Linked DNA regions of Homo sapiens. The protein of the gene in region 1 interacts with the protein of each later gene in a biochemical or structural test. Each region holds a gene or a part of one and is shown on either strand. Other genes may lie near its edges.

Evidence for each region. The genes of interacting proteins can lie anywhere in the genome.
Region 2: the proteins of SUFU (region 1) and TRPV4 interact in a test that uses a peptide from one of them, tested with the Homo sapiens proteins (one large-scale study listed by BioGRID).

Annotation. Positions count from the first base shown.
Region 1 is NC_000010.11:102,615,472-102,620,107, forward strand, and holds part of SUFU (suppressor of fused homolog), read left to right. Parts: intron 1-1,818; coding exon 1,819-1,957; intron 1,958-3,594; coding exon of another isoform or gene 3,595-3,600; exon of another isoform or gene 3,601-3,997; intron 3,998-4,636. UniProt on the Homo sapiens protein: Negative regulator in the hedgehog/smoothened signaling pathway. Down-regulates GLI1-mediated transactivation of target genes. Down-regulates GLI2-mediated transactivation of target genes. Part of a corepressor complex that acts on DNA-bound GLI1.
Region 2 is NC_000012.12:109,830,599-109,835,298, forward strand, and holds the start of TRPV4 (transient receptor potential cation channel subfamily V member 4), read right to left. Parts: upstream 2,801-4,700; 5' UTR 2,752-2,800; exon of another isoform or gene 2,750-2,751; intron 1-2,749. UniProt on the Homo sapiens protein: Non-selective calcium permeant cation channel involved in osmotic sensitivity and mechanosensitivity. Activation by exposure to hypotonicity within the physiological range exhibits an outward rectification.

The sequences.
Region 1 (4,636 bases):
AGCCTCCCCAGCCCCCTCCCCCAGCAGGCGTCCTCCAGGGCCTCCAAGGAGCCACCAGGCCCGTGCTTCCCGTCTCCCTGTCTCCCTGATGAGGGTGAGGTGCCTGTTGGCAGCCTACACACCTAAGCAGGCTGGGTCTCAGGGAGGGAGGAGAGCTACTCCACATGGGGCCTGTTTAGGAGCCTGGGGACTGTGAACCAGCCAGTCGCCCCCATGTCACTGGGCCATGCGGTGTTCTCCTTGCCCAACCCTCTGGCTGGCCTAGGTGGTGAGAAGTCTGCCATGCTTCCTAGAGCGGGGCTCTCTTATCTGCATCTCCTGTCTAGCCCAGAGCAGCAACAGTCCCCAATGCGCCCAGCACTGTGACCAGAGAGCCCCACTGGTCTCCTATTGCTTGTTTGACAGACCTTCCTCGTTCGCAAGTTCTGGAGTCAGAATCCACAGGGAGAAGTATTCCTCAGCCCTGCTCCCCTTAGGAAGGCTCTGTGACCCAGGGAGTCTCAGGTGCCCCCAGCCACCGACAAGCCCAGGGCAGGGATGGCAGGGTCCCCAGTAGCACTGGTTTGTCAGGGTGGGGTTGGGTGGGTTGGGCTCTATTTTCTCCTGCTTGCTGCTTTTCCCATGCAAAACACTCAGTTCTAAAACCTAGTGGCCAGCCCAGCAAACTCCTTGAGGGACCAGGAAGCCCAGCTGTGTCCCTTCTGCTTCTGTCCACAGTGCCAAAAGCCCAGCCCTATGGCCAGAACTCAGCTCTGTGCTCAGGGCTGCTGCACGGCTGCATCTGCTACAGCTGGCTACCCCACAGCCCAGGGGCTCCACCCACACTTTGAGCAGCAGAGTCACCAAGAGTAATTCTAAACTCACAGAACAGTGACAGGGAAGAAGAACTTGCACACTTGGGGACTCCCCACTGTCCCCAGCACCTGGGAGTGAGTTTGAAGGGTAACTAGCCTTGGCCAGCCACCCTGGGCAGCAGACAGAGAGCAAATGGCCAGAATGAACAGGACCTGGAGGGGCCCACTGCCATCCCACAGCCACATCCTCCCCAGCCACTTCTCTGGCCCAGGCCCAGGGCCTTTCAACTGGTGAAGGGTTAATTGGAGGCAGCCTGAGAAGGCAGAGGGCAGGTTCCACTTCCTTTGCTGATGAGTGGCTCTGCCCATTAGCTGCCCCTGCCTGCCCCTCCCCCAGGTGTATTTCCAGACTAGGGATTAACAGTAACTTCTGTGGCTCCCTGAGTGACCCCACTTGGCTTCAGCTTGCTTGCTTGCTTTTTTTTTAAAGATGTGCTGTGGCCTTTGGGCCAGCCACTTGAATGTTATGGGAAAGCCCAGGAGCAGGTGGAAGATTCTGCCCTGGACACTGAAGGGTCCCACTGCGGAGGCACTATCCCATCGTCCCAGGGAAACTTGTCTAGACGCTACTTCACCTCCGTCCCCTAAGGGGGGATGTGACCCCCCTCTTACCTCTGGGCATGACCTTCAGCACATTGCTACCTTCCCTCTCTGCCCTCAATTTTCCTAAGGGAGGTGAGCTCCAGGATCTCTGCAGGGCTTTTGAACTCAGTGTTTTCTGCTAGCTTTGAGCACTTTGGAAGGATGATGTTAGAGAACTTGTGAGAGGAGCTTCTCTTTGAAGGTGTTGAAATGAGCGTGTTTGGATACAGTCCCCTGTTGATGGGCAGGTGGGCAGCCAGGAGGGCATGTTACCTGGCCCGCGGACCATAGTCCCCACTGTCCCAGAGCCTTGGCCAGGCCTGCTGTGCTTGGAACTGTTTCCAAGCCCAGCTCCTCACTGTCTCCATGTTCCCATCTCCAGGGGCAGGCTCCTGCATGGACGGCACTTTACATATAAAAGTATCACAGGTGACATGGCCATCACGTTTGTCTCCACGGGAGTGGAAGGCGCCTTTGCCACTGAGGAGCATCCTTACGCGGCTCATGGACCCTGGTTACAAGTGAGAAGGCCCTTTTTCTTCTCCCTCCTTCCTTTCATAGACTTCCTTGCCCACCCCTCCTCTTCTCCCTTGGCAGCTCTTGATGGCACCCCTTCCTGGGGGGCTGGTCATGAATGCCTCATGGATTCAGGGCCTGGGGCCTGTGTGTAGGTATGGAGTGTGGATGCTGCTACCCACTCCAGCAGCTTAGGAGCACTTCCTGACCTTCTCCCCCTGTCACCTGAGACACAAGTGTTAACTCTCCAGGCCCTGGCTCTTGGTAATTCTGGTTCCCCGTGGAAATCCAGGTTGGAGGGATATAAGACTTTCTGCACCTTGGGTAAACCAAGGTACAAGAACTCAAGGATGAAGCAAGATGGGAGGATGTGTGGAGGCCACTCTCCAATGGCTACATGGAAATCCCACCAGAATTCAGACAGTGGCATGTGTGCCTGGACCAGGGCTGGGCAGGCCTCAGTGGGAAGAGCCTCCCCTTCTTAGCCTACCCCCATCTGACAGCCCTCCCGTTCCTCCTGAGTTTGTGTGACCAGAGACCTGCTGGCTTATCCGGAGCACTTTGTCCTTCCTTTGCTCTTCTGGCTGGAGCGAGCTTCAGAGCTGTTGCCAAGCAGGGTACCAGGGCCTCAGAGCCATAGGCCTCCTTCCAGTCCCCACCCCGTCCCGGGTCTCTAACAGGTGCTCAACCTACTCCACCACACTCCCGAGTGTCTTGGAGGGACAGCATCCTTTTTTGGCATTTGTTTGTTGCGGGTGGGGAGAGGATTGAACCCTTAACCTCACCTCGCTCGCAAGTATCAAGAAAGGGAACCTGACCCTAAACCTAAAGGTGGCCATACCTGGTTTGTGAATGTATTGGAGAGGCATGCAGCATTACAGTAGAGGGGAAGAGAATGATGCTAGGTTTGTGAGTTTCACCCAGTCTGGGGAGTCTGTGAAGCATATGTAGTCAATACAGACACACTTTTTGTCCCTGCATGTCTACAGAATTTCTCCTCCTTCAGGCCAGGCCCCTCTTCTCCCGCCACCACCAAAATACAACCCTTAATTAAAACAAACAGCAAACAAAGGACACCAACCACACTCCCCAGACTAAGCCGAGATAGAAATGGAAGCTAGTGCTTTAGGGATATTGTGTTCCATAAATTATCTTGCCTTTTTCCACTGTTGTTATTATATCGTTTCATAACAAAATTACTTTGAACCATAAAGTTATAAATACATTTTAAAAGTCCCACTTGGTAACATTAGATTTCTGTCCATGTGGTGTTGGTAGTTACTGTAACAAAAGCTCTGAAGTGTAATATTTGAAATTAGCCCAGCACAAGTGGAAAGGGCCTCCCTCCATTCCCTACCCCCAGCCATGTCCCGGGCTGCTGCGTCTGCCCCTGTGGAGAACAGGGAGGGAGCAGGCCTGTCTCCTGGGCGGAGCTGCTGAGGAGGCTGGAGGTAAGGACAAGCCCCTGAGAGTTCACAGGTCATCATTCCCAAGTGTCCTCAGGTAGCGTGTGTGTGTGTGTGTGTGTGTGTGTGTGTGTGTGTGTGTGTGTGTGTAATGTTCAAGCACGTTTTCCTGGGACAGTCGGGACTGGGGCCTCCCCAAACTGCAGAATCTACCCAGTTATGTTTGACATCCTCAGCTCTGAACCTATCCTCGGAGCTCTGCCCTCCCGTCCTGGAACGTCTTTCTGCCCTGAGGAGAGGGTAGTCAGCATCTCCAATTTTCAGCAGCTCAAGAACCTTGGCCCCCACAGGACTTCGCAGATGTCACATTGCCCCTCAGTCCCCTGAATGCCCTTCGGACCCAACCCCAATTCCCCAAGCCCCTGACCCCCTAGCTGCCGGGGTTCCCACTCCCAGTGCCACAACCCCCTCACCTCCCTGGCAGCCCCTCAGCGAGCCTGAGGCCCAGCACCCGCTGGCTCCCCAGCACATGGTCCCCTCCCATGGGCTGTTGCCCAGGGAACCGGGGCGCGGTGGGAACGAGCTGCTGGCCTCGGCATGTTTCAATAAAGTTGCTGTGCTGGGAGCTACTCAATCAAAGGCCTGTGTTATGGGCTCATTAGTGTGGTCCACCACGGGGCCGGCTCACAGGAGAGCTCCTGGGAAGGCTGGCGGAGGCCCCACACCCCAAGCACCCACCCTTGATCACCGAGGGGTTTCTCAGGCCCTTTCCAAGGAGCCCTGGGAAACCCTCTGACCCTGCCCCCAGCCGGATTCTCAGCAGTGGAGCCAACACCCACACCAGCCCTCCTCCCCCTGCCAGGCAGTCAGCACTTTCTCCCTCTGACTGCCAGCCAGCCGCCCCTGTTAGGGTCCTGCCACTGTGGTCACAGGCAGCTCCCTTGCTTGTGGGAACCTGGGCTTGTAATTACTTGTGGGCCTCTAGATCTCCCTCTGGGGCTGGCTGTCTCCCTGGGAGTCTGCAGGACCTCCTAGAGGCCTGGGGTTAGACTTGCAGTCGCCAGTGAGGGCCACTCCACTGGGCCAAGGAGAGCCATAGGTCCCTCAGGAGGGGACCCCAGCACAAAGAGGCCCACCCTTGCTCCCTGCAGGCATCTCTTGCTCGCACCCCCAGGGTTCCGAGGTGTCTTCTTGGGCCTTGTGTGCCCAGGCCTATTGGAGGCAGAGGAGTAGGAAGGAGTGAAATCCAATAGACCCAGGACATGACGAGACCCAGTC
Region 2 (4,700 bases), on another chromosome or scaffold:
GTTATCTTGGCTCCCCAGACCCTATCTGTGACAACAAGAGGAGCTGTTACCTGGGTCCCTATAATTTGGAGAACGGACTGGAGTGTCTTTCCCAAAGTCAAATGGGGGAAACTGAGGCAGACAGCAGGGTCAAGGGCCTGCATGGAGTAGAGACACCCACTTCATGTAGACCCCATCCCCCTAGGAACAGAGGAAGGAACTCAAAGGACTTTGACCATCTCAAAAGTATTTGTTCAGACAACCATGCCATAGATACTGACTGAGCACCTACTATGTGCCAGGCACATGAGGCTCAGTCTTGTGTGTTTCCTTCCCTCCTACATCTCCTTCCAGCTGCCGCTCTCCACTCAGAGCTTGGATGACTTCCCCAGCCTTGGGGCCAGCCTCTCTGTCTGAGCTCCTCCAATCTTTCCCACTCTGCAGCCACAGGGACCTTTCTAGAACAGACAAACAACCGTGTCACTCCCAGGCAGGACTTCTGGGCCTCTGGGTCTGATTTAGCTCCTGCCTGTCTGATCCCTCACCCTTTCCAGTCACGTCACAAACTCCAGACAAACAGAACTATTTCTCTGCTCTATAAACCCCAGGTGTAGCCACCTGGTAACAGGTAAAAGTCATATCTCTGCTAGTGCCATTCTCTTTGCCTGAATACTCTTTCCTCTACTTCTGCATTTATTCTTTAAGGTGCGGCTTAAACACTACCTTGACCAAGCCCTCGTGGGTCCTTCCTGGGCCAGTCCTCCTACCCTACGGCATTCTCCCCTGACCCCATCCATTCCACAGCATACATTTACTAAGCGTCGGCCATCCATGCACACCTTGCTAGATGCTCACAAGTCAGGTGTGGGAGCTCCTCCCCGGGGGGCCACAAGGGAAAATCCTTCTTGCCTTCACACGCCTCAGGCTACAGCGAAGCTGGGATTGGAAGCATCTCACTGCTCCAGTGCCCAGCCCAGAGCTGGCACAGGTGAGCTTGCAGAGAGCATTTGCTGGAGGAGGGAGTAAGTGGCAGAGGCCCAGTTGGCACCAGATAAGGCAGGAGGAACCTCCACAGCCCCTTCCCCAGATATAAGGTATCTGGGTTTCACCTGGGGAATCCCAGCCATCCTCACCGGAGCTCATGTGAAACATCCCTCCTGGGGGCATCACACCCTTTTTGTTCAGGCAACCATTCCCTGGTTACCTCCATTTCAAAACAGCCCCACCTTGATCTTACAAAGTGAACCGCCCTGAACTATGACTGCCATTTGCCATTTGTGTCTGGGACCCCTTCCGCGTGCAATTCACCAATCAAGGTGGGTGTCCAGGCTTTCTGGTTCCCATCATTCTTCAAACAGAATGAACTAGAGAAATGTGGAAATGGCCAATTGACTTTTTTCACCCTCTTTGTTAAGAAAATGTTTGGGGCAACGACAACTGGTTAAACATTGATGGCAGCCAACAGTGGCTGTGCCAGGTTCCTGGAAGGTCATCGGTCCTCACGACAGCCCTGGGGGCTTGCCCTCAGGCACCCCAGTATTACAGAGGAGAGAACACAAAGGCTCAGACAGCTAAGGGACCAGGCCAAGGTCACACAGCAGGGGACTGCAGAGCACACCCCGGGCCCCACACAGGCCCGCTCTTAGCCCCGCAGATAACCCAGGCCTGACCTTTCTACCCTTGTTCCCCCAAAAGCCCACCTCGTCACCCTCCTCAGGAGCCCGGGGAGTCCCGACTTACCCTCTGCCCTTGCTCCGGAGCCAAAGTGGCAAAGCTTAAATCCTCAAGCGGTTCTTAGCATCCCAGAACAAAGCTCCCACAGGGTATCTGCCTAACATTTCAGGGGTTCACGGCCCCTCTGCCCCCAGCAGAGGCTCTTGTTTTAGAAGCTGAGCCAGAACAGCCACAGGGCCCACCTCTGCCCTGCCACTTCCCAAGCACCCCGGGGGCACCAGGCCCTGTGTGCAGAGCTGGCCCCAGGACAGGCCACCTGGTGTGGTGGGAAGGGCTTTGGGGCTGGATAGTCCCTGGGTTTAAATCCCAATTGTCTAGATCCCCGACCTAAGCCTCAGTTTCCCCATCTGCAAAACAGAGAGGACAGACAGAGGGAACAGCTGGGGCAGGCTGGAGCAGTGGGTGGCTCGATGAATGCATCTGTGGTTGGTGTTTCCAGGCAAGCGGGGAGTGTGGGAGTCTCTCTCTCCCCCACCCCCACCCCCGCTACCCACCCCCAGGAGCCACCCGCCCCCGGGACGTCCTGAGAGTCCAGGGCAGAACTAGAGGTTAAAGATTTTCATGCCTCTTGGAGGAAACAGCCGTCTCTCCGGGACTCAGTAACCAAGAAGAAGCCTTTGGAAGCTCCAGACTCCAAATTCCCTCCGACATGCTCAGGGGCCAAGGGCAAACCTTAGGTCCCCCGAAATCCCTCTTCCAAGTCTCCTAAGGTGGGCTGCAAGGCTCCGGGCCTTTGGTTCCCTGGCTTGGGGTCTCAGGGAACCGAACCGCCCTCCCCCCAGACCTGCTACCCCAGGCCCCACGTTGGTGCCCATTTCACAGGTGATAAAACCGAGACCCAAAGAGCCGGTGTCCGGCCCAAGGGCACTTAGCTGAGAGGCTGGCGCCTGCGGAACCTGGTGCCTTCCGTCTCCCGCGCCCCTGGCCCGCATTTTGGAGCCTCGGGACCCCCCGGAGCCGGACGGGCCACGGAGATGTCCCCAGGGGCGCGAGGGGACCTCGGCTGAGCCGCCCCTCCCGGGCCCGGGCCCCACTTACCTCCGGGACGGCTGGGCGCCGGCGGCCGGGAGATCCGCGCTTCCTGAATCCCGGCCGGCCCGCCCGGCGCCCGTCCGCCCGCGGGTCCCTCCTCCGCCGGCTCAGGTTCCAGCCGCGCGCCGCCCCCGGCCAGCTCCCCGCCCACCCGCCGGCTCGCGGACCCCGCCGAGCGCAGGCCCTAGAAGGGGCGGCCCCTACTCGCACCCCGCCCGCCCAGCGAGGGCCTCCCCTGCGGGGGAGGTGCAGGGCCAGGGCCTCAGTTTCCTCGCCTGGAAAATGGGTGTCGCGATCCCCGGATAGAGCGGCAGACGGTCTTTGGAGAGGGCTCTAGTTGGAATCGGCTCCGATTCGATCTTGCTCCGTGACTTCGGGCCGCCCTGGGACTGTGTCCTAGTCTCTAAATGGGCGTCCCGGCCCAGTCCTCCACGTGTTTGCTCATTCATTCATTCAGCAGACAATTTCCTCCGAGGCGTTGAAGGAGGTCCCTACCCTCGGGTATGGCCCATAGAGATGGTTCAGGGGTAAATAAATGTGAGCTGCTCTCCTTGGTCTTCACCCAGTGCTTACTGCGAAGCCTGCCTCGGAGTAGGCCATCAATGTTTTGTTGCTGTTGTTTTTGAGACAGGGTCTCACTCTGTTGCCCAGGCTGGAGTGCGGTGGCGTGATCAGGAATCACTGCAGCCTCAACCACCAGCGTTCAAGCAATCCTCCCGTATCAGCCTCCCTAGTAACTGAGACCACAGACGCCTACCACCATGCTTGGCTAATTTTATTTAAATTTTTTGCAGAGATAGGGTCTCACTATGTTGCCTAGGCTGGTCTCAAACTCCAGGCTCAAGCGATCTACCCACCTCGGCCTCCCAAAGTGCTGGGATTAGAGGTCTGAGTCACCGTGCCTGGCTCAATGCGTTTTTGTTTATTTTTTTTATTATTATTATTATTTTTGATACATGTTCTCCCTTTGTCACCCAGGTTGAAGTGCAGTGGCATGATCACGGCTCACTACAGCCTCAAACTCCTGGCCTCAAGAGATCCTCCCACCTCAGCCTCCTGAGCAGCTGGGAGTACAGGCATGCGCCACCACACCCCACTAATTTTTATTTTTTTGTAGAAGGGGGGGTGGGGGAGGGCAGCCGGTCTACAACTCCTGGCCTCAAGTGATCCTCCCACTTCAGTCTCCCAAAGCACTGAGAGTATAGGCATGAGCCACCACACCTACCCATGTATTTTCTTTTATCAGATAACAAAGGTGGGCCCCAACACATAGCCATACCCTCTACCCAGCACTGAGTCCACTTGAATACCTCCACAGGATGGGCAGCTCACTTCCTCCAGGGTGGTTGGAAAGCCTAGCAGGCCCACAGCTTGGCTCTGTGACTCTCTAACCCAGCAGCCCTATGCAAGTCCCTTCACCTTTGTGCCTCAGTGCCTCTACATCCCCCTGTAGAGTGGGGCATACAAAAGTCCTCACCTCACAGTCGCAGTGAAGATGCTGGGAGCATCCAGGCTGTGCAGAGCCCTTTTTTTTTTTTTTTTGAGACAGAGTCTTACTCTGTCGCCCAGGCTGGAGTTCAGGGGTGTGATCTCAGCTCACTGCAACCTCTGCCTCCTGAGTTCAAGCGATTCTCCTGCCTCAGCCTCCTGGGGGCTGGGATTACAGGCATGCGCCACCACGCCAGGCTAATTTTTTGTATTTTTAGTAGAGACAGGGTTTCACCATGTTGGCCAGGCTGGTCTTGAACCCCTGACCTCAGTTGATCCACCCACTTTGGCCTCCCAAAGTGCTGGGATTACAGGTGTGAGCCGCCGTGCCCGGCCCAGAGCCATGCCATTTTCATCATTAGTGTTTTCACTAAATTGAGCTGACTCAGGGACTGTGGGGTAGCTCCTTCCTCCTCAGCTTGAAAATAGCAGCATCTCTCCTGAGGTCCAACAGCTGGAAAGTGAAA